4 linked regions of the Homo sapiens genome follow. The gene in region 3 interacts genetically with the main gene of each other region. Each region holds a gene or a part of one and is shown on either strand. Other genes may lie near its edges. The genes, in order: SEC24B, TRAPPC11, MTF2 and TBL1XR1.

Region 1 (5,769 bases), on a different chromosome or scaffold from region 3:
ACATCCACATAACTTGTAGCTTTCTGTTCTCTGAAATGCTCTTGACCCACCTTGCAGACTATATCTTAATACCCTGATCAGTCATCCATAGCAGTGATAATGCTTCTTGCTTCGATGCATATTCTATTTTGGCATCCTGTAGTATCCAAAGATATTTTAAAGGCATTGCTAAAACAATAAATTACATAACTGAAGTTAACATAGTTGGTAGTACTTAGTAATATGCTTCTGTGAGATGAGGCATCTATCTTATTAATAAAGAAAGCTTGACAGGCAGTGAAATGGTAATTTTTTCTTTGTATTGTAGCATCGACTTTTGAAAACAGCTCTAACAGCATTTTAAAAGATTAATGATAGATAAAATGTTTCAGTGTTCATAAATGTGGTTTTTGTGTAAAATTTTACACATTAAAATCTGATTTGCAGTATATTCAATCTTTTCTTGGAAAGTACTTATTTGTCATTCTGCCCTTAAAATGCTTAAGCAAGATATACTATTGTTCTAATATTGGAACTGGAAGTAAGTTTTCACCTTGGTCTTCTTCTCTGATATATATTTGTTTAGATAGGGATAATTTTTCTGTCCCCTGTAGAAAAGCATATGTGTAATTATCCTTGGACTTAAATTACTATTTCATTATTTTCTGAAATGAAATATGTTACTGAGCACTCTGAATTTAAAATTGTCATTTTTATCTTTAGGCTTCCTGGAGATTCACGAACAAGAATAGGATTCATGACCTTTGATAGCACTATTCATTTCTACAATTTACAAGAAGGATTATCACAGCCTCAAATGTTGATTGTGTCTGATATAGATGGTAAGCAGTCAGTAAAATAAAAGCCTTTCTAACTACGGACTTTGAAATGGGGGCTACTTTATTTTAATATACACCTTGCTATATGCTGTGAGGATAATGTCATGCACTTTAGTATTTGTTCAAAATAATTGTTTTTCTGGAAATACTTGATTCTAAGTTATGCCTATGTATTACACACATGTATGTATAATATATACAGAGTGTGTATATTTAATAAAGCAATATTAGCTGGGCGCAGTGGCTGAAGCCTGTAATACCAGCACTTTGGGAGGCTGAGGTGGGTGGATCACCTGAGGTCAGGAGTTCGAGACCAGCCTAACTAACATGGAGAAACCCCGTCTCTGCTAAAAATGCAAAATTAGCTAGGCGTTGTGGCGCATGCCTGTAATCCCAGCTACTCAGGAGGCTGAGGCAGGAGAATCGCTTGAACCCGGGAGGTGGAGGTTGCAGTGAGCCGAGATCATGCCATTGCACTCCAGCCTGGGCAACAAGAGCAAAACTCCATCTCAAAAAAATAAATAAAATAAAGCAAAATTATAGTACACATTACATGTATGACCTGATAAAAACTAAGATTTTCTAATGTATTCTTTTGTTCGATTTGTTGATTAAAATATGTGTTTTCCCTATAGATGTTTTTCTACCTACACCGGATAGTTTACTTGTGAATCTATATGAAAGTAAAGAGGTAAGATTGATTTATTTTCTTAAAGCATAAAAATATTTATATTGTGACTGGTAACTAAAATATTTAACATTTGTTTACTTGATATATTAGTATTACAAATAATAGACAATATAAATGGCATATCTATTGACTCCTCAGTTTCCAGTCCCCAGAAATACAGTGACACATGATACACTATGGAATGTTTTAAAATAAGATTATTCCTTTGCCTTCTCAGTAATTCAATTTTTGATCTTTGTTTTCTCAGCTTATAAAAGACTTACTGAATGCATTACCAAACATGTTCACCAATACAAGAGAAACACACAGTGCCCTTGGTCCTGCACTTCAGGCTGCCTTTAAATTAATGTCTCCAACAGGTGGCCGTGTGTCTGTATTTCAGACACAGTTACCTTCCTTGGGTGCAGGACTTCTGCAATCCAGAGAAGATCCTAATCAGAGATCAAGTACAAAGGTATTTTATGTTTAGTTTTTTGTCATATTCAAGATTGTGTAATTATTTGTTTATTCTATTTCATTAATAATAAAATACTGGCAAGAGAGTTGGGTTTTTTTGTTTGTTTTTTGTTTCTTTTTTGAGACGTGGTCTCACACTGTTGCCCAGGCTGGAGCGCAGTGGCGCGATCTTGTCTCACTGCAACCTCTGCTTCCCAGGTTCAAGCGATTCTCCTGCTTCAGCCTCCTGAGTAGCTGGGATTACAGGCGTGCACCACCACACCCGGCTAATTTTTGTATTTTTAGTAGAGACGGGGGTTTCACCATGTTGGTCAGGCTGGTCTCGAACTCCTGGCCTGGTGATCCGCCTGCCTCAGCCTCCCAAAGTGCTGGGATTACAGGCATGAGCTACTGCGCCCGGCTGCCTGAGAGTTTTTTGTTTTGTTTTTGTTTTTTTTTTTTGAGACGGAGTCTTGCTCTGTCGCCCAGGCTGGAGTGCAGTGGCGCGCTCTCAGCTCACTGCAAGCTCTGCCTTCGGGTTCACGCCATTCTCCTGCCTCAGCCTCCCTAGTAGCTGGGACTACAGGCGCCTGCCACCACACCTGGCTAATTTTTTTGTGTTTTTAGTAGAGACAGGGTTTCACAGTGTTAACCAGGATGGTCTCAATCTGCTGACCTCGTGATCCGCCCACTTCAGCCTCCCAAAGTGCTGGGATTACAGGCGTGAGCCACCGTGCCCGGCGAGAGTTTTTAACTCAAATTATCTTTTTGGTTTTGTGTCACAGTATGTTCTTTTTATACTTTGTAAGTCATAGAAATTTAGAAATCATTTAGTCTAACTTTTTCATTTTATAGATGAGGAAGTAGAGTGTCTAGTTAAAGGTTAAATAACTATTTAATGGTAAAAGTGCAACTTGATTTTCTGACTCCAGTGTTCTTTTCTATTACGTAAGTGGTAAAACTTACTAAATGTAACTATTGTAATTCAACATGCTCATACTAATAAACTTTTTAATTATGAAGATAACACAGATCATTGTATAACACTTGGAAAGTGGAGAAAAGCATAAATCACCAATAATCTAACGATACTAGCATTTAGTTATACAAACATACAAATAAGCATAATTGGACATCATACGTGTGTGTGTGTATATATATGTGTGTGTGTTTGACCTTTTTCATTGGAGAATATATTGTGCGCATTCTCTGAAGTCACAGAGAAAGTAAATGTGAAAGTAATCAATTGATTGCTTTTCAGCTATTAAATAGTTGTCTTCAGTATTTTTTTCTTTTGTTTTTTAAAAGTAGAGACAACATCTTGCTGTGTTGCCCAGGCTGGCCTCAAACTGCCGAGATCAAGCAATACCCCTACCTCAGCCCTGCAAAGTGCTGGGATTGCAGATGTGAGCCAGACCTGTATTTGCACTATTTTTTTTTTAAAAAAGGGCTGGGTGTGGTAGCACCTGCCTGTTACCTTAGCTACTCAAGAGGCTGAGGCTAGAGGATCATTTGAGCTTAGGAGTTCTAAACCAGCTTGGGCAATGTAACGAGACCCTATCTTAAAAAATAACAATAATGGCCGGGTGCAGTGGCTCACACCTATAATCCCGGCACTTTGGGAGGCAAAGGTGGGTGGATCACTTGAGTTCAGGAGTTTGAGACCAGTCTGGCCAACATTGCAAAACCCCATCTCTCCTAAAAATACAAAAATTAGCTGGGTGCGGTGATGCAAGCCTGTAATCCCAGCTACTCAGATGGCTGAGGCAGGAGAATCACTTGAACCAGGGAGGCAGAGTTTGCAGCGAGCTGTGATCACTGCCACTGCACTCCAGCCTGGGCAACAGAGCGAGACCCGGTCTCAAAAAAAAAGAAAAACAATAATAATAATAACAATGAAAGGAATATACGAAGCTGAACATTACTTGGGTTTTATGTGAAGATTTGGTCAGGCATTTTTAAGCCCTATTTCAAATAATAAATGAACAAAAATATTCATTTTTCTTTTGTACAAGTTCTGTCTGGCCTTAACATATTTGAGAAAATATCATTATAAGTAGTTATGAGTATGAATTAAACAGTTTTAATAGTGTCATAAATCTTTAGCCACATATCCAGATTTGCCTTAGGATAAATTCCTAGAAGTGAAATTATTGGGTTAAAGGGCATAATCTTTAAGTTATTAAATAAAGAATGTTTTGTTTATTTGGGTTTTTTAATCAACTTCTCTTCTTAAGGACTCTCATCCTGTAACCACCATTAAGTAGCATTGCTTTTTTTATTCTTCACCAATATGCTAGAGAAAAAAAGGCACCATATTTCACCCTTTATAGAAATTGTATTTTAAAATTGCATTTGAGAAGGAAGCTAATTTTAAAATAAGTATGTATTTTAAACTCATCAACAAGTGTAGCTGGCATTTAGTTCGTTGACCCATTACAATCCATTATAAATTACTGTGGTGTTTTGAACACAGGAAGCTGATATATATTTACTGAATCCTTTGATAGAGCTTTGTTTTGATTTGTTTTGTTTTCTCATTTAACTTTCAAAAATATTCTCTATCTGTCTGCCTAGGACTCTAAAGTTTCAGTATCTGTTCTGGTTTACATATTCCTTCATATCCTTAATTCCTTATATTAGAGTAAGCTCTAATATAATCATCATACAGTGTAATTAAGAGGATTGAAACTTTTTTTTAGGAAATGTTGTATGATGATTAAGAACTTGGAGACTCTCTCCAGTGTCACCTTCTCAGCTCAAGTCTTCTCATACCAAAAGAAACACCTTCCTTAATCTTTTACTCTCTTAAGTTATTTAACAATATTTAATAATGGTTAACAGCACTCATTCTGCAGCCAGATTTCTTGGGTTGATATTCCAATATCCACTTCTCAATATCTATGTAATCTTGGTCAAGTTACTTAATCAGTTATTGCCTCAGTTTCTTCGTCTGAAAATGTAGATGATAAAAACCATATGAGATGTGTTATGAAAATTAATTTGTGTGAAACAGTGCTGGCACATAAGTGTTTTTTATAAAGATTATCTATCATTATTATTATCATAGGGAATCTGCACCAAATGCCTAGACATTTAGAAAACTCTTAGTTTGGTAGGGAGGCAGAGGATATCCTTTTTGTTATAAAAATGACATGAAAATATGAGCATAAAGATTGCTAGCTCTTACTATATGATCTGTTGACTTAGGTGGTACAACATCTTGGCCCTGCAACTGATTTTTATAAGAAACTTGCATTAGATTGCTCGGGACAGCAAACTGCAGTGGATTTGTTCCTTTTAAGTTCACAGTATTCTGATCTTGCTTCTCTAGGTAAGGAAAGTCATCATGGGTACATTTGTTTAAATGAACATTTTTAATGCATAATTAAATCTAAACTCTTCAGTAAGCATTCTCTATATTTTAGGGAGAAAAGCATGTGCATTAGATAGACAATATCTATGAAAACTACCAGTAAAGTTTAAAGCACTATACAAATATAAAATGTCACTTGTATTTTGTTTAGATAGCATGATTCCCTTACCATTCTGCTCAACAGTAAACTTTATCATATATTTTATAGATATTACTGTTTTCTCAGATTTGTATGTTCTTATTTTGATGGCTTAGGTTTTCTCATGACTTAGATTTCTTCATAATGTAGAATCTGTACTACTGTTGGACAAGTAAAATATTATTATTTCTATAGCTAATACTTTTTGTATTTCTCTCTAAAGCTTGCATGTCCAAGTATTCTGCAGGGTGCATCTATTATTATCCATCATTCCACTATACTCACAATCCTTCACAAGCAGAAAAGTTAC
Region 2 (5,769 bases), on a different chromosome or scaffold from region 3:
AATGTAACTCATCAATGCTCCCACTGTAGTAGAGTACTCTGATTACACTGTGGCCACAGTATAAGGGTGGGATCATTACTACTGCATCTTTTAGAAATTATTGTTCTTTAACTTCCAAAATATTTTTCTATCTAGTTTGGAAGCAGAAGTTGACTGAGAAGTTAACTGCACTAAGTTACAAACAATGGGTATTTTATTAGCCCACTAATTCATGTTAAGCATGTTTTCTAAATTCCCTTGTAGAAAAACTGCTTAAGACATTTTACACATTTACGTATGTAAAATGTGTATGAAATGTTCATTAGTTAAATCACTTTTTCAGTCCTAGAATATGCGTTAAAACGCTCTGAACTGTTAAAAACTCACTATATATTTAAAACTACAAACTAATTGATTTCCTCTTCAATCCCAGTTGACCAAGTTTACCTGTTCCCCTGGATGTAAGTCTCCAACAGGAATGTCAGTGAGTAAAGCCGGGTAGGATTCATCACACAGTTCTGTTCCATGAAGAGTCACGTGAGTCTTCTGAGTTAAATTGGCATCCTGTCCTAAAAGAGTTAATATTGGTTCTTCAAAACAAAGAATTCAAACATTATCCCAATAATCAATACTGTGTGAAGAGCACTATGCCATACCCTCTTGTAAACAAAAGTCCTAGAGTTGACATCACTGATGCTTATTTAATGTTGGATTAATACTGATCAAACTTACAAAAAGGAATGCTTACCTGGTTTTAAGCCAGCGGTGAGCTTCACATCTCTGATTTGGGTCTTTTCATGGGACTGAACAGTCACAACCAAACAATACATTTCATTAGTCAGTGCAGGGGGTTCATGTAGCAGATGTACAGAAATGTTTGGGACTCTGGATATGATCCTTTGAAAAGAAACCTTAGCTAAGTAACTGATCAAAAAAAAAGCAAATAAATTATTCAAATAAAGTATTTAAAAGAAATAAGAGGCTGGGTGCAGAGGCTCAGGCCTGTAATCCCAGCATTTTGGGAGACTGAGGCAGGAGGATCGCTTGAGCCCAGGAGTTTGAAACAAGGCTGGGCAGCATAGTAAGACCCTCATCTCTAGAAAAAATACAAAAATTAGTCAGGCATGGTGGCACCTGGCTGTAGTCCCAACTACTGGGGAAGGCAAGGGTAGCGCCTGAGGTGGGAGGATGGTTTGAGCTCAGGTGGTCAAGGCTACAGTGAGTCGTGATCACACCACTGCACTCCAGCCTGGACAAGAGAGAGACTCTGTCTCCAAAAAAAATAGCAAAAGAAATAAGAGGATGACCTTTAATATCAGCTTAGCAAAGCAGACTTACATTGTGCTTGCCTGAATTATAATGCTGTCCCAGTGAACTTCATTGTCAGGTAGCTTAGGTCGCCTTTTGAAAGACCGAGCTGCCTGTAAGGCTTCTTGGGAGGAAGCAGCATCTCCTCCTCCTCCCTGCCAATTTAAAACCACACATCTTCCCGTCTCATTGCCCAGAGCAAGATCCACTGAAGTAATCTAAAAAGAAAAAAAAGGATGTTGGAAATGTCATCTCATATGTGCTTGTCACCATCTCCTCTCACCAAAATTACATCGTCGACTGCTAAGACCATGGAGTTCATCTAGAGACCCCCAGTGTGACAGAAGTGAGAACACCTGCTATTAGAGGTCTTACTCGGGCTGGGACAGAGACTAACTGCGCTCTGGGTTCCAACTTCTTCACCTTTAAAACAGAGACACTAACCTGACTTTCTGTTGACAGGCTGATTGCACAGTAGTGTTATGATTTTAACATCTGGCATAGTCCCTGATGTAATGAAGGTTCAATTAGTGGTTGCTGAATGAAATAAGTATTGTGATGGCTATGGATACATTATAACCTCATTTCCGACTCCACAAATATTTTTCTCAAAAATATTTACAGTATTAGCAATAAAATGCTTTATTAATTGAATACATGATCTATTCAACTAAAACCATTAACAAAAGGACTCAAAATAGAATTACTAATTATTATTTATGTCTGGTAGGTTCCCTTAGGTACCATGAAAAAATAAAATATGCAATTAGGGCATTTAGTCAAAATCATGAAAGTTTTTTTTTTTTTAATGAATAAGCAAATAATAAAAGCAACATGTTCACAGAAACTGTTATGGGAACACTGGTTGTATAACTTTATATGCCATTTATCTTAGCAATGGTCCCAAGTTTAGATGAGCTAACCATTCCCATTCAAGTCATGAAAAACAAGCACTTAATGAATGCTTACTGTGTGCTAATCACTATTCCAAGCAAGTTACATTAACTAGCTGATTTAATCCTCATGAAATCCTAAGAGATTAGTACTCTTATGATCCCCATTTTACAGATGAATACACTGAGACACAAAGAAGCTAAGTAACTGCCCAGGGCCACAAGCTAATAAGCTAGAGAGCTGTAATTTAAACCCATACAGTTTGGCTCCAGAGTTTATGCTCAATAAAGATATTACTTAGATCCTATATTTCTAAAAGGCATTTCAATTATCTATACTATATCAATCTTTACAAATATATATGTTCATTTTTCTTTAAAAATATGTACTCAGTAATGCTTAAACATCAAAAGATATTCAGTCTGAATAACATAAAAAATATATTTGCTATATTACATAATATACATTATTTAAAACTCCTTAACTGATTATGTGGTCATTAAAAAACAAGATTGGTTTATATACTAACAAGAAATAATATCTAATATACACTATTAAATGACAAAAGCCAGCTACAGTTTATTATGTACAGTATATTCTCAATTTTTTAATTGCAAAAAATTTTAAACTACAAGTATGTTCACAGAAAAATGTCTGAAGGAAACTTCCCAAACTATTATGAATGGTTTCCTTTAGGAAGTCCAAGTAGCAGATTTTCATTTTTTACTTAATCAACTTTTGTATTATTTAAAATATTGATATAAACATACTTTTATTATTAAAAATATTTTAAAACAAATTTCATAACTAACCTCAATTTTCTTTCCCACATCTTCAGTTTTTGCAACAAACTTAAATAACAGTTTTCTTGTTTTGCCAGGAACTAGGCACATCTTTCCTTGAGTCAGATTTTCTAAAACTTCATTTGCTTTGGATGCTTCTTCTATTACACAGAACTGGTTGTATTCCTGAAAAAGGTGAACAGGGGTCATCAAATGTCAGATGTCTGCTAACCCTAAATGCCAAGTGCTTTGGAGCTCATTTAGTATAACTCCACAAACACTGAAGCATTATGAAGGGTTACTAATAAAAGGAAGTATTTTTTATGCCAAATAGAGGCATTTATCCACTTACTGCTGCCATAATATAACAGTTCACTACACATAAACTGTTTTCTGAAAATATTTAGCTATCCCTCTCCCAGAGAAACAGTTTGTTCTTTGTTGCACTGGACACTACTGTTTATCACCTCCTTTTCTTGAAGAGCCTTTTTTTACTTGGCTTCTGTGATGCTATAATCTTTCCTGTTTCTCATCCTGCTTGGTTACTTCCTGTTTTTCCTACCTGGAGTGCAGTGGCATGATCTCGGCTCACTGTAGCCTCAACCTTTTGGACCCAAGGGATAGTCCCACCTCAGCCTCCAAAGTAGCTGGGACCATAGGCATGTACGATCACACTAGACTAATTTTTCTATTTTTTGTAGAGATGGGGTCTCACTACGTTGCCCAAGCTGGTTTCAAACTTCCTGGGCTCAAGTGATCCTCCTGCCTCAGCCTTCAAAAGTGTTGGGATTACAGGTGTGAGCCACCAAGCCCAGCCCCATTCCTTTGCTTTCTTTCAGGTCTTCATTTCTCTCTCTGTTCACTTCATTGGAAATGTATTTGTTTCCACGTTCACCATACCATTGTTGCTAGTATCTCTCACATACAGTTGTCCTATTCTGTCTTATTTCCTTAATTACAAGCTTATATCCACAACTGTCTAGAGGACAAGTCCACTACCACTGAAACTCAGCACGTCCCAAAGTGAATGTGCATCTGCCTTCCCAGAAGAGAACAATCCTCATAGATGAGTAAAGGAAGACAGCTTTCATGTTTCTATCTATGGAATCACTATTCTCATCTGTTCAATAAATATCAAGACCTTTCCAAGAGCCATCTTCTATTCCAGCATATAAATTACCTTCATAGAAATTCTTACACAGTTCAAGTATTATACTTTCCCGCCAATTTTCATTTCTATTCCATGCTTATAAAAACTACTCTACTTTTTTTTTTCTTATGGTTTATATTGTGAATTTCTTTTCTTTTAAGACGGAGTCTCACTCCATCGCCCACTAGAAATGCAATTTCAGCTCACTACAACCTCCGCCTCTCAGGTTCAAGCAATTCTCATGCCTCAGCCTCCCAAGTAGCTGAGACTACAGGCACCCGCCACCACGCTCAGCTAATTTTTGGGTTTTTAGTAGAGATGGGGTTTCACCATGTTGGCCAGGCTGGTCTTGAACTCCTGACCTCCAGTGATCCGCCCACCTTGGCCTCCCAAAGTGCTGGGATTACAGGCGTGAGCCACTGCGCCCCGCCTGTATCTTAAATTTCAAATAAGATATATTCAGAATATAATCTAAATTTTAAAACTAATTGCTTTATATTCCATTTTAGCGTTATTAGTTTTTAATTATAGTAGCTTATATTTTTTGTTGAAAAAAAAAAGGAAAGAAAAGAAATGAAATAGTAGGCTATTAAGGGAAAAGTAAAATAAGAGTCCCCATACTTCACTTGAGCCCAGGAGTTTGAGGCTGAGATGAGTTATGATCACATCACTGCACTCCAGCCTGGGCAACAAAGTATCTCTTTAAAAAAAAAAAAAAAAGAGTCCTTGTGTTGACCCTCTAATTTCATAATGAACAAAACAAACAAACAAAAAAAACCCCTGCCCTTCTGCCCTTGTGGAGCTTAGATTCCAGTAAGGAAAAACAGGTAATTTACCAAATAATCACACAGACAACGGTGAAACCACAGTGTGATTAGTACTACCAAGGCTATGAGAGCCTGGCTAAGTGATTCAGTCATGTAAGTCAGGGGAGGCTTCCCTGAAGAAGTGATGCTTTTAAGTGAGAAAAGGCAAGAAGGAATGAAGTAGTCGGAGAGGAGGGCAAACCAATTCAAGCAGAGGAAAGGGCATGTACAAAACCTCCTGTCCTTCATTCATCCTATCCCCACTTTTCAGCCGCTATATGCACTTGGCAATCCAGATTTATCTATTTTTAAATGCCTCTTATATCCCTGAATCTCCATTCCCAACACCAGCAACTCAATTCCGATACTTGTACTTTTGTACATGGATTAATATAAAGAGCCTCTAATTGGCTTCCATGATATTATTTCTATTTTGCTACTAGAATAAAGTTTCTTAAAACTTTAAGAATAAATTGCATGCTCTTGCTTTAAAATTCTCAAACTGGGCCAGGCATGATGGCTCACACCTGTAATCCCAGCACTTTGGGAGGCTGAGGTGGGTGGGCTCCTTGAGCCCAGCAGTTCAAGACCAGCCTGAGCAACACTCCATCTCTATAAAAAAATACAAAAATTAGCTGGGCATGGTGGCATGTGCCTGTAGTCCCAGCTACTCAGAGGAGGCTGAGGTGGGAGGATCACTTGAGCCTGGGAGACTAAGGCTGCAGTAACTCAAGATGGTGCCACTGCACTCCAGCCTGGGAGATAGAGTGCAGCCTTGTCTCAAAACACACACAAACACACACACACACACGCACACACACTAAAATAAAATTCTCAAACGGATTAGAGG
Region 3 (5,769 bases):
CACTTTCTCCTATCCTCATTTAATTTAAAGTTCTTATCAGTACTTGAGCCCCTCTGTTGATTCTCAGTTCTGAGGATTTTTTGATAGTAGTTAAAGAATTCTCCCATAATCAGGGAGATAGAAGGGTAGTTTGTGAAGTGCTTATCTAGTACTAAAAATACTTTTAAAATTTCAAAGCATTGTCATTATAGTATAGTTATGGATCCTAATTACATTACCTTTTTTCTTTTCTTTCTTTCTTTTTTTTTTTTTGAAACGGAGTCCAGGCTGGAGTGCAGTGGCACCATCTCGGCTCAGTGCAAGCTCCGCCTCCCAGGTTCATGTCATTCTCCTGCCTCAGCCTCATGAATAGCTGGGACTACAGATGCCCACCACCATGCCCGGCTAATTTTTTTGTATTTTTTAGTAGAGACGGGGTTTCACCATGTTGGCCAGGATGGTCTCGATCTCCTGACCTCATGATGCGCCCTTCGTGGCTTCCCAAAGTGCTGGGATTACAGGCGTGAGCCACTGCACCCGGCCTTTTTTTTTTTTTTTTTTTCTTCATTAAAAGAGACAGGGTCTCTCTGTTGCCCAGGCTGGAGTGCAGTGGCGTGATCATAGCTCACTGTACCCTCAAACTCCCGGGCTCAAGTGATCCTTCCACCTCAGCCTCCTGAGTAGCTAGGACTACAAGTGCATGCCACCACACCTGGCTAATTTTTAAAATATTCTGTAGAAACGGGGTCTTGGTATGTTGCCCATGCTATTCTTGAACTCCTGGCCTCAAACAATCCTCCTGCCTTGGCCTCCTTAGGTGCTGGGATTACAGGCATGCCACTTGGGCCCAGCCAGGGCCAACTTTTAGCATCCATAGGTTCTATGGGTCACACTGCAGAACTTGAGTATCTGTGGATTTTGGTATCCTCAGGAGGTTCTGTGACCAGTGCCTTGTGGATACCAAGGGACAACTAAATAGCATATACATAAACCAGTAACACAGTCGTTTGTTATCAGTATTATGTATTGTACATAATGAGTATATGTGCAAGACTTTATGCTACTGGCAGTGCAGTAGGTTTGTTTTATACCAACATCACTGCAAACACATTGTAAAGCATTGCATTACAGTGGTTACAAAGTCACTGGGTAATATGAATTTTTCAGCTCCATTATAATCTTATGGGACCACTGCTGTATATGTAATCTGTCGTTGACCAAAGTTTTACTGTGTAGCACATGACTATGCTTAGAAGGAAGGATCAACTATGTAAATAATGAAGGAGGAGGCCGGGTGCATTGGCTCACGCCTGTAATCCTAGCACTTTGAGAGGCTGAGGCGGGCGGATCGCTTGAGGCCAGGAGTTTGAGACCAGCTGGGCCAACATAGTGAAACCCTGTCTCTACTAAAAATACAAAAAATTTAGCCAGGTGTGGTGGCACATGTCTGTAATCTCAGCTACTCAGGAGGCTGAGGTTCACTTGAACCCAGGAGGCGGGGGCTGCAGTGAGCTGAGATTGCACCACTGCACTCCATCCTGGGTGACAGAGCGAGACTGTCTCAAAAAAAAAAAAAAAAAAAAGATGAGGAAGAAGGGCAATTTTGGTAGTAGGTACAATATGTATGAATGCCTTGGGTGGAAAAGATCTTGGTTTGTGAATAATTGATAGGCAGCCCCGGGTGAATCTTGAGATGCAAAGACATATTCCTGTGGGAGAAGAAAACTAATATATCATATTTGACTTGTAGCTTTTTCAGCCTAGTAATTATGTTAGTTTCCCAGTTTTGTTGGTGTTTGAAGAACTATTTATAAAGTCCTTTTGTATTTATCTATGTGATAAATACAGAGCTTTGAAAATGTATACTACAGGCAGCTGTCTTTGAACTTTTTCTTGTTGTTTCAAAATTGGGCAGACAGCTACAGGTTGAATATCCCTTATTTGAAATGCTTGGGACCAGAAGGGTTTTAGGATTTTAGGCTTATTTGCATATACAAATGAGATGTCTTGGGGATGAGACCCAAGTTTAAACACAAAATTCATTTATGTTTCATACACACGTTGTATGCTTAGTCTAAAGCTTATTTTTTCGTTCGGGACACTGAATAAACTGTGTTGTGCCACCTGCGTTTTGACTACAACCTGTTACGAGGTCAGATGTGGAATTTTTCATGTGTGGTTGATGCTTAGAAAGTTTCAGATTTTGAAGCATTTCAGATTTTGGACTTTCAGGTTAGGGATGCTCAACTTGTATTAGTATCTGAGGACACTTAACAACCAAGTTGAACCATCTGTAGGAATGCATCATTTCATCACTGATAGATGACTTCAGTTAGACTTATAAAAAAGGCCTTAAGGCTGGGTGTGGTGGCTCACGCCTGTAATCCCAGCACTTTGGGAGGCCGAGGTGGGTGGATCACCTGAGGTCGGGAGTTCAAAACCAGCGTGACCAACACGGTAAAACCCCATCTCTACTAAAAATGCAAAAATTAGCCAGGCGTGGTGGCACGCACCTGTAATCCCAGCTACTCAGGAGGCTGAGGCAGGAGAATTGCTTGAACCCAGGAGGCAGAGGTTGCAGTGAGCGGAGATGGTACCATTGCATGGCAGCCTGGGCAACAGAGTGAGACTCTGTCTCAAAAAAAAAAAAAAGCCTTAATGGCAAAATATACTGTGGACAAGAGGCTGGATACTGTCGATACTGGCAGTGAATGGCCTGATTTCATTCACCAGTTGCTAAATCTGAAAATATTCTTGGCCTTCCCCACTGTATGTGACCTCGGTTCATAATTGGGATCCAAAGGTGACAAATATCTAGAATAACTTTGTCTCAGAAATAGTATCACTTAACTGGGGTTTACCATAGTAGAGCCAGGTATTACCTATCTTTCTTTACAACTTTAAGGAAGTAATTTTACTTCTGAGTTCCAGATTTTTCACTTGTTAAACAGTAGTCTTCCCTTCCTATTCTATGGCATTATTAGGAGGAGAAAATGAGATATGAATGCTTTTGAGAAAGTTAAGCAGTATAGCAAGATGAAGATATTTTCAAGCCCTTATCATCCATATGCTCTACTACCTACCAAAGATCCAGTTCATACTTTTGTTTATAGTAATTGGAACTTTTAAAACTCTAGGGTATAGTTAGTGGCTTGCAGCAAGAGCCCCTCAGTTCTCTTATTTTTTTCTCGTTGGTCTTAGGACCAGAGTCTGCAGGATTATAATGACAACGCTGAACTTTCCAGTTCATCCTTGCCTGAATTGTTAGTGGAGGCTCATTTTATGTAGTGTAATCAACTTTATAAATTCTGGACTTGAACATGAATGTATGTACCTGTACTTAATTCACATTTATCTGTGGTTTTAATGTATATTAGTGGCCTTGTTGGTTTTGGTGTTTTAAGTCTGTAGTTAACCTTTCTTTATTATTCATTGTATATGTGAGATAATATAATCAAGGATTCCTTTTGCACAAATAATTTAGATGGCTATGGGTATTGTGATGTAAAGATTTTACCAGTTGTCATATTGGCTTTTAAAAAAATCAGATATATTTTTGAAATCTATTACTGTTTCTAAATGTTTGGTATTTACCATTTTGAAAATACTTGATATATTATATTTAACAGTGTCATTTACAATTTTTTTTTGAGACAGAATCTCACTTTCTTGCCCAGGCGGGAATGCAGTGGTGCGATCTCGGCTCACTGCAACCTCTGCCTCCTGGGTTCAAGCAATTCTCATGCTTCAGCCACCCAAGTAGCTGGGATTACAGCTGTGTGCCAACGTGCCTGGCTAATTTTTGTGTTTTTTGGTAGAGATGGTGTTTCACCACGTTGGCCAGGCTGGTATGGAACTCCTGACCTCAAGTGATCTGCCTGCCTCAGCCTACCAGAGTGGAGTGCTGGGATTACAGGCATGAACCACCATGCCCAACCTCATTTACAATTTTTAAAAAAATCTTAAGATCTGTATTTTTTATAGTTTATAAAAGTTTTTTTGTGATCACAAAAATACATGCTTTTGGTAGAAACACAAACATACAAAGATGTTCTATAAAACTGACTTTTTATCGTACATTTTAAGATATTTAAAAATATTTTCTGTAATTTCATGAAGAGTACTAAAGCCACAGTCACTGACATTGTAAACACCTCTGTTCATTCTCTAACCTGTTAGGTGGTTAAGCTATTTTTAATTCTAGGGGGCTCAGGCTGAACTTGAGGTTGGGGAGGAGAATTTGCCTCTGCTTTTAGTTGCAATTTTCAAGTGAGGTGAAATTAAGTAAAATTTGTAAGAGCTTTTTTGGCTTTTTAATTCTAGATAAATACATAAATAAATTTGGGTCTCTGTAATAGAATATGTGCTTTTATAGGATAGTGATATTTGCTTGATAAATGGAGGATTTACTTACTAGTGTGTGTATTGATAAATACAGACTTTGATTAGTTTATTCAAGAGAGATTTTTAAGTCCCTACTTTATGCCATACCTTGAAAAGTTTTAGAGTTCCAGTGATGAGCAAAATGTTTACTTTCAATTGTAATTCAAAATGCAAATTCCACTTGTTTACATGGAGTTATTAGATTGTAAATTTCTAGAAAATTGTTTGATTCTGCCTTTAAAAAAAAAGAAAGATGGAGCCTCTCAAGAGTGCAGTGGTACAATCACAGCTCTCGTACTTCACTGTATCACGGTAGCGTTTGAACTCCTGGGCCCAGGATATCTTCACACTTCAGCCTCCCAGGTAGTTGGGACTACATGCTCTCACCGCTATGCCTGGCTTAATATTTTCATTGTTTTAGAGATTGTGTCTGTGTATGGGGATCTCGTTATGTTGCCCAGGCTGGTCTTGAACTCCCAGCCTCAAGGGATGTTCCTGTCTCAGCCTCCCCAGTATTAATAGCTTGATTTTCCTTTTTTTTTTTTTGAGACAGAGTCTCACTCTGTCACCGAGGCTGGAGTGCAGTGGCGCAATCTTTGCTCACTGCAACCTCAGCTTCCAGAGTAGCTGGGATCTCAGGTGTGCACCACCACACCTGGCTAATTTTTTTTCTTTTTTGAGATGGAGTCTCGCTCTGTCCCCCGGGCTGGAGCGCGGTAGCACGATCTCGGCTCACTGCAAGCTCCGCCTCCCGAGTTCACGTCATTCTCCTGCCTCAGCCTCCTGAGTAGCTGGGACTACAGGCACCCGCCATCACGCCCGGCTAATTTTTTGTATTTTTAGTAGAGACGGGGTTTCACCGTGTTAGACAGGATGGTCTCCATCTCCTGACCTCGTGATCCACCCGCCTCAGCCTCCCAAAGTGCTGGGATTACAGGTGTGAGCCACCATGCCTGGCCAATTTTTGTATTTTTAGTAGAGATGGGGATTTCTCCATGCTGGCCAGGCGGGTCTTGAATTCCTGACCTCAGGTGATCTGCCTGCCTTGACCTCCCAAAGTGTTGGGATTACAGGCGTGAGCCACTGCGCCTGGCCAATTTTTGTATTTTTAGTAGAGATGGGGGTTTCTCCATGCTGGCCAGGAGGGTCTCGAATTCCTGACCTCAGGTGATCTGCCTGCCTTGGCCTCCCAAAGTGCTGGGATTACAGGCATGAGCCACTGTGCCTGACTGACTGTACTTTTAATATATCTTTTACACAGAAGATTCAGGTTTAATCATCAGTGTATGAAAGTAAGAGAGTAGGATTGTTGGAATATGAATATTCTTGGTTACGTTATTTTTCCTAGTTTTTTTTTTTTTTTTTGAGACGGAGTCTAACTGTGTTACCCAGGCTGGAATGCAGTGG
Region 4 (5,769 bases), on a different chromosome or scaffold from region 3:
TTTCTAAGGAAAAGTAGTTTTAGGGAGGGGAAGAAGAAAATTGATTTTGAACATAGTAATTTTAAACTGCTATGTAATGCCATGGCTAGAAATAAAGAAAATATTCTAGTTGAATTCAACATTTAAGCAGAGCATTTAAGTTTGGAACTTCTCTAGGGTAAACATTAGTGAGAAGTGCCAAAACAATGCTAATGACTACTTCAGGGATGTTTCATTGCTATTTGAGAGCATCCTAAGTACATCTGCAGTACCTTGAGATGCATGTAAGCACCTGTGATAGTTTTTCTCCTGGTCTGACAGAACAAATTCAGGATATCTGCAACATTCCAGCCAGAAATTGGCACAGTTCCACCTGCAAGTCTTAGACTATTCTTGGACATATTATTACTTTAAACTTAAACTCTATAAGCTAATTAAATAGGGTCCAAATTTAACAATTTTGACTATTTAAATTGCAGTCATGAATAAAGTATACAGAAATCATGTACTTCAAACAAATTTATAAGCATTACATAAGTCAAGACACTTTCAAAACCTTGGCAGTAAATATGGCAATAAGATGGCTCAGTGTTTCATGCACTGTGCAACCACTTTCCAGGACCCTGAGATGAAAACAAAACAGTGATGTAGTCTTTTACTTTCTATCAGGAAACAGGAGCTCACTCTCTCCCTTAGCTTTATCCTTGACCATATTTTAACTGTTCAAGAGGAGTAGTAGAGTCTCTGAATGAATTTGAATCTGTACTTTCTCATTTATTAGTTGTGATTTTCCATTAGATTATAAAATAATAAAATTATATGTGTGTACACAGTATCTAGCATATGGTATAGGCCCTCTGTAAATGATGTCTTCTGTCTTGAAGTTTTCTTAAATCTCTTAAGCTGCTTGGCGTTTGGCTGTTTTTACTATGGATGATTTACTGTGAATTTATTCAGGGAGGGGTTATATAATTGAAAACAGGAATCTCCAACCTCACTGCTTAAGGATTTTACTGCTATGTCTCTCATTGTTTCTCCCCATCCTCCCTCATCCTTATTCTGTTTTCTGCCTTGGTGATCTGGAATCTACTCATATTCAGATAGTTGTGGGCTTCCTGATAGGGACAATTCAAAACGGTGCTTCTCCGCCCCCACCCCCCCACCCCCGCCCCGCCCCCCGATTGGTATCTCTGTGAGCCCAGATTAAGGTGAAAACTATGAAAACTATAAATGCATTTAATTATGATCTTGCTTATGGGCAAAATCAGGGGCTAAAATCAAGGTTTTAGAGGTAACATTTTTCCACTTGCCTTTTCCACTGTGGGTTAGATGTTGTGAGCATAATGAGTTAGGTGTTCCAAAGAGAGAAGGAAGGGGTTACAAGGAAAATCAACTTAGGTGTACTCTGACTATCAAATAACCAAATTTTCCTAGCCACATGCTAGGAAATTGTGAGCCCACAGTATTTTCTACTAGACTGTTTATAAGTACCACAAGGAGTATAAGAGTGGAAGCACAAAATCCAAAAAAGACATTACTAAACACTAAAAAACTAGGCTAGACAGGCTAGCCAACAGACATACTATATAGATTAAATCAGTTTAACCAAGACCCAAAATAAGCCTGTATTTATTTCCTTTGTTTAGTATAAATGTTTATTAATATTCTATATTACTTGTACAATTTAATTGAATTGTTTAAAATACTTCATAGAAATTACTACTTAATGATAAATGGTGATTAATATTTCAGTAAAGAAAATAACCACCCTTGGTTTATCAGCTTCTTAGAATTTTACCTTTGAATTTTGACTAGATATTAATAAAAAGCAAGGCCAACATAAAGAGATTTTTATTAAGTAAGTGCTTTGGTTTTAAGTATTTCAAGTTAAGAGTAAGTAATTGCTGATGGAGACCTATAAACCAGGTAATCATTTGCTAGCTGTTCATTTCTTAAATATTTCATATAGATGAGTTATTACTAAGTGGCAAAGAATTGGTATTTTTAAAGCACTTAATTCATACATAAAATGAGATTTAACCGTTATGATTTTTTAATATTTGAATTTATTTTTATTATTTTAGTTTTCCTAAGTAGTTCCAAAGAGCTCCAAAATACTGAATTTATCAGATGTTTGACAATTTATATGTAGAAATTTAAATACTTCAGATTTTACCTGAGTGCTAGATTGCTTTACAGACATTATTGAATTATAACTACGTAGTAGATAACAATTACATGAAGTAAATGAAGATCATTCAGAATGAATGAATTCCTATTTAAAGCATATTATGTGTACCACTTTTGAGAGATGCTGAATACTTGAACTGGGCTGGGATGAAAGAAAATTTGAAATAAAGTTCCTTAATTCTAGATGTAAAAAATATTAAAATATAATACAGAAATATTAAATGTCCCTTAATCTGTCTTGGCCTGATTTAAATGAAGCAATTTAATTATATGATTTCCAAAGACTTGTTTTACCTTTTACATTTGATGCTTTTTGTTAAGAAAAGTTGTGTACCATGACATTTTAGAAAATTTGAAGCTATATAATCAAGTATTTACTAGAAATTTTAAAGAGTACATTAAGAGAAAAAGAAAGTATGTAAAGGCTGACATGTTTACATGCACACACACGCGCGCGCACACACACACACACACACACACACACACGACCTTCGTCTGGGATTTTAAATGGGTAGGATGGGATTTGAAAAGATGATGGTGATCTTTCTTTCTGTGTCATTTAGCATGTTGCCACTAGGAAAATAAATTCTCATGCCTTTTCTTTTGTTTTTAGGATTTTCTCATTCAGCATTTACCTTTGGTATAGAAAGCCATATCAGTCAGTCCAATATAAATGGTGCCCTCGTCCCACCCGCTGCATTGATTTCTATCATCCAGAAAGGTCTACAGTATGTAGAAGCAGAAGTTAGTATTAATGAGGTAAGGAAGACTTATTTCAAATACTGATTTTTTTCATCTTAAATATGCCGTTAAGTCAGCTGTCTTGCTTGCTTATTCAGTATTCTGACTTTAGCTTCACAGGGTTAACAAAAGTGCAGGCAGTTCATCCCTAATGTGGTAGTCAGGTTGCACCGGCAAGGTGTTGGCGCCTAGTTGTAAGGACCATTATCTGTAGTTTGTTTGCCTTAATCTGTTTGTGTAAGTAAACACTAATAAAGAATTTTTATTAACACAACAGCATTGTGCTGTGGAATGCTAAGATCATAATTATTGGCCTGAAAATTGTAAATTCTCACGTTATTTGAATATACCCAAATTTAAACCAGTTTGTAATTGAAGCCAACTCTGGATGGTACTGCCTATCTAAGGACTACATGTGAGTAGTTTGTTTGGCTTAGGGGTCAGCATACTGTGGCCCATTAGCCAAATGCTCCTCCCTGTTTTTCTCAATAAAGTTTGATTGGAACATAGCCACATGCATTTACATATTGTCCATGGCTACTTATGGCATAATAGTAGTTGAGACAGAGACCTTATGGCCTGCAGAGCCTAAATTAATATTTACTGTCTACTCTTTTACAGAAAAAGGTTGTAAACCCCGGTCTAGTTTAAAATGTTGTTTTTGTTTTTTGTTTTGTTTTGTTTTGTGTGTGACGGAATCTCGCTCTGTTGCCCAGGCTGGAGTGTGGTGGCACAATCTCAGCTCACTGCAACCTCCGCCTCCTGGGTTCAAGCGATTGTCCTGCCTCTGCCTCCTTAGCAGCTGGGATTATAGGCACCCACCACCATGCCCAGCTAATTTTTGAATTTTTGTAGAGACAGGGTTTCCCCATGTTGGCCAGGCTGGTCTTGACTCCTGACCTCAGGTAATCTGCCCACCTCGGCCTCCCAAAGTGCTGGAATTACAGGCATGAGCCACCACGCCCAGCCTAGTTTAAAATTTTTATCTATAGTGAGGAGCTTTTCCCATTACTTCTATTTCAGAGATTAACATGTTCCCCTTTTGCGAGTATTTTTAAACTGAAGTATCTATGATTTCTGTATCAATGATTATTACTAGAATTAGAAATTACATAATATACTAAAATGGATTTGTTTGTTTCCTCAGCTCTTTGAGTGACCATCCAGTAACGCAAAACTAAATTTTTTCTTAAAATGTGTGTAAATTTGACATGGCGCTTATTCCACAGTGTATCTGTGTTGGGTTTAGTATCTTAAAAATTATTTATAAGTTAAAATACTTTCTCCTGTTCCTGAAATATTACATTACAATGGACAGTTTAGAAAGACAGGCTGTGTTTTTGCAGCTCACAGTACCCTGCAATAACACTGTAGATTGTCACTGGTACATGTTTACCAGTTTAAGTGAACCAGACTTCACATATGCATGTTCCCAGCTAATTTGTACTGTTTGTATTTCTGACTTGTTCTGTGTTTGTGTCTCTTCTTGTGCTTACTTGGAGAACTCTTTATTAGGAACTTCCTAATATCAATAAGTAGAGCTTTGGAAATTTTAATAACTCCCTAATATTCAAGAGCACTATAGCCCCATGAAGTCTGTTTCTGCTTTAATATTTGAATCAAATCACAAGAAACTCTTCAGCTCAAAGTTTTTAGTTTTTTAAAAGATGTATTTACTATAATGGGGCACCAGGCCTCTGATCATTATATGAACTATATTCCATATTGTTTGTTGCTTTGACTAACAGAATTTCAGAATCTAATTAATAAGCCTTTTTATCAGCTCGGCCTACATCTTATTATCTCTTTCATTTCAGCTCTATCTGTACAGCTCTATACTGTAATAATAGTATGAATTAAATGAAAAGGAAAATGTAAGCAGTCATTTCCAGTTGCTGCTTGTAGTTTCTTTATTCCCTCCGGACTTCTTATATGAATTCAGAAAGTTCCTAAAAATGTTTTTTTAGGAACGAAGATTTTCATTTCATTTCTGATTTTGTATAAATACAAATAACTTTAAATATTGCCTTTGATTTTTCTTCTCTCACAATTTTCCAAATCCAGGATGGTACCTTGTTTGATGGTCGACCAATAGAGTCTCTGTCCCTGATAGATGCCGTAATGCCTGATGTAGTACAAACAAGACAACAAGCTTATAGAGATAAGCTTGCACAGCAACAGGCAGCAGCTGCTGCAGCTGCCGCAGCTGCAGCCAGCCAACAAGGATCTGCAAAAAATGGAGAAAACACAGCAAATGGGGAGGAGAATGGAGCACATACTATAGCAAGTGAGCTCAGACAAGAATTTTTTTTTAATTACATGGTTTATTTATTTATTTTTTTAAACTTTTAATTCGGGGTACATGTGCAGGTTTGTTATATAGATGAACTCATATCACAGGGGTTTGTTGTACAGACTATTTCATCACCCAGGTACTAAGCCTAGTGCCCAATAGTTATTTTTTCTGATCCTCCTCTTCCTCCCACCCTCCACCCCCCAGGAAGGTCCCAGGAGACAAGAATTTTTAAAAATTTTTTCTCAGAAGAAATGCCCCATCTTCTATGCTGAAATAATTTCATCTGTTAACTTGCACCAACTTGTTTCCCTAACTTGTATCACACAGTTCAATTCAGATTTTTATTCCTAAAGCTCCAAAAAGCTAGATTTACTTTTATTTTCTTTTTAAAATATCTAGAAACCCTTTTCCCATTGTTAAATGAATTTTTACATCTACATTTGATTTCTAAATAAAATTTGTAATACTAGTTATCAACAAATAACCATAGAGCTCTGACATCGAGATAAAAGGCAACTCATGTTATATGAATGATATCAGCAACCCCTACTGGCAGAAACTCA

Evidence for each region.
Region 1: changes in MTF2 (region 3) and SEC24B together harm fitness more than expected from each alone (negative genetic interaction), as found in Homo sapiens cells (one large-scale study listed by BioGRID).
Region 2: changes in MTF2 (region 3) and TRAPPC11 together harm fitness more than expected from each alone (negative genetic interaction), as found in Homo sapiens cells (one large-scale study listed by BioGRID).
Region 4: changes in MTF2 (region 3) and TBL1XR1 together harm fitness less than expected from each alone (positive genetic interaction), as found in Homo sapiens cells (one large-scale study listed by BioGRID).

Annotation. Positions count from the first base shown.
Region 1 is NC_000004.12:109,519,664-109,525,432, forward strand, and holds part of SEC24B (protein transport protein Sec24B), read left to right. Parts: intron 1-702; coding exon 703-821; intron 822-1,453; coding exon 1,454-1,509; intron 1,510-1,756; coding exon 1,757-1,963; intron 1,964-5,154; coding exon 5,155-5,278; intron 5,279-5,682; coding exon 5,683-5,769. UniProt on the Homo sapiens protein: Component of the coat protein complex II (COPII) which promotes the formation of transport vesicles from the endoplasmic reticulum (ER).
Region 2 is NC_000004.12:183,688,696-183,694,464, reverse strand, and holds part of TRAPPC11 (trafficking protein particle complex subunit 11), read right to left. Parts: intron 3,150-5,769; coding exon 2,994-3,149; intron 1,506-2,993; coding exon 1,318-1,505; intron 877-1,317; coding exon 728-876; intron 549-727; coding exon 427-548; intron 1-426. UniProt on the Homo sapiens protein: Involved in endoplasmic reticulum to Golgi apparatus trafficking at a very early stage.
Region 3 is NC_000001.11:93,084,955-93,090,723, forward strand, and holds part of MTF2 (metal-response element-binding transcription factor 2), read left to right. Parts: intron 1-5,769. UniProt on the Homo sapiens protein: Polycomb group (PcG) protein that specifically binds histone H3 trimethylated at 'Lys-36' (H3K36me3) and recruits the PRC2 complex, thus enhancing PRC2 H3K27me3 methylation activity.
Region 4 is NC_000003.12:177,050,932-177,056,700, reverse strand, and holds part of TBL1XR1 (F-box-like/WD repeat-containing protein TBL1XR1), read left to right. Parts: intron 1-2,782; coding exon 2,783-2,928; intron 2,929-4,974; coding exon 4,975-5,197; intron 5,198-5,769. UniProt on the Homo sapiens protein: F-box-like protein involved in the recruitment of the ubiquitin/19S proteasome complex to nuclear receptor-regulated transcription units. Plays an essential role in transcription activation mediated by nuclear receptors.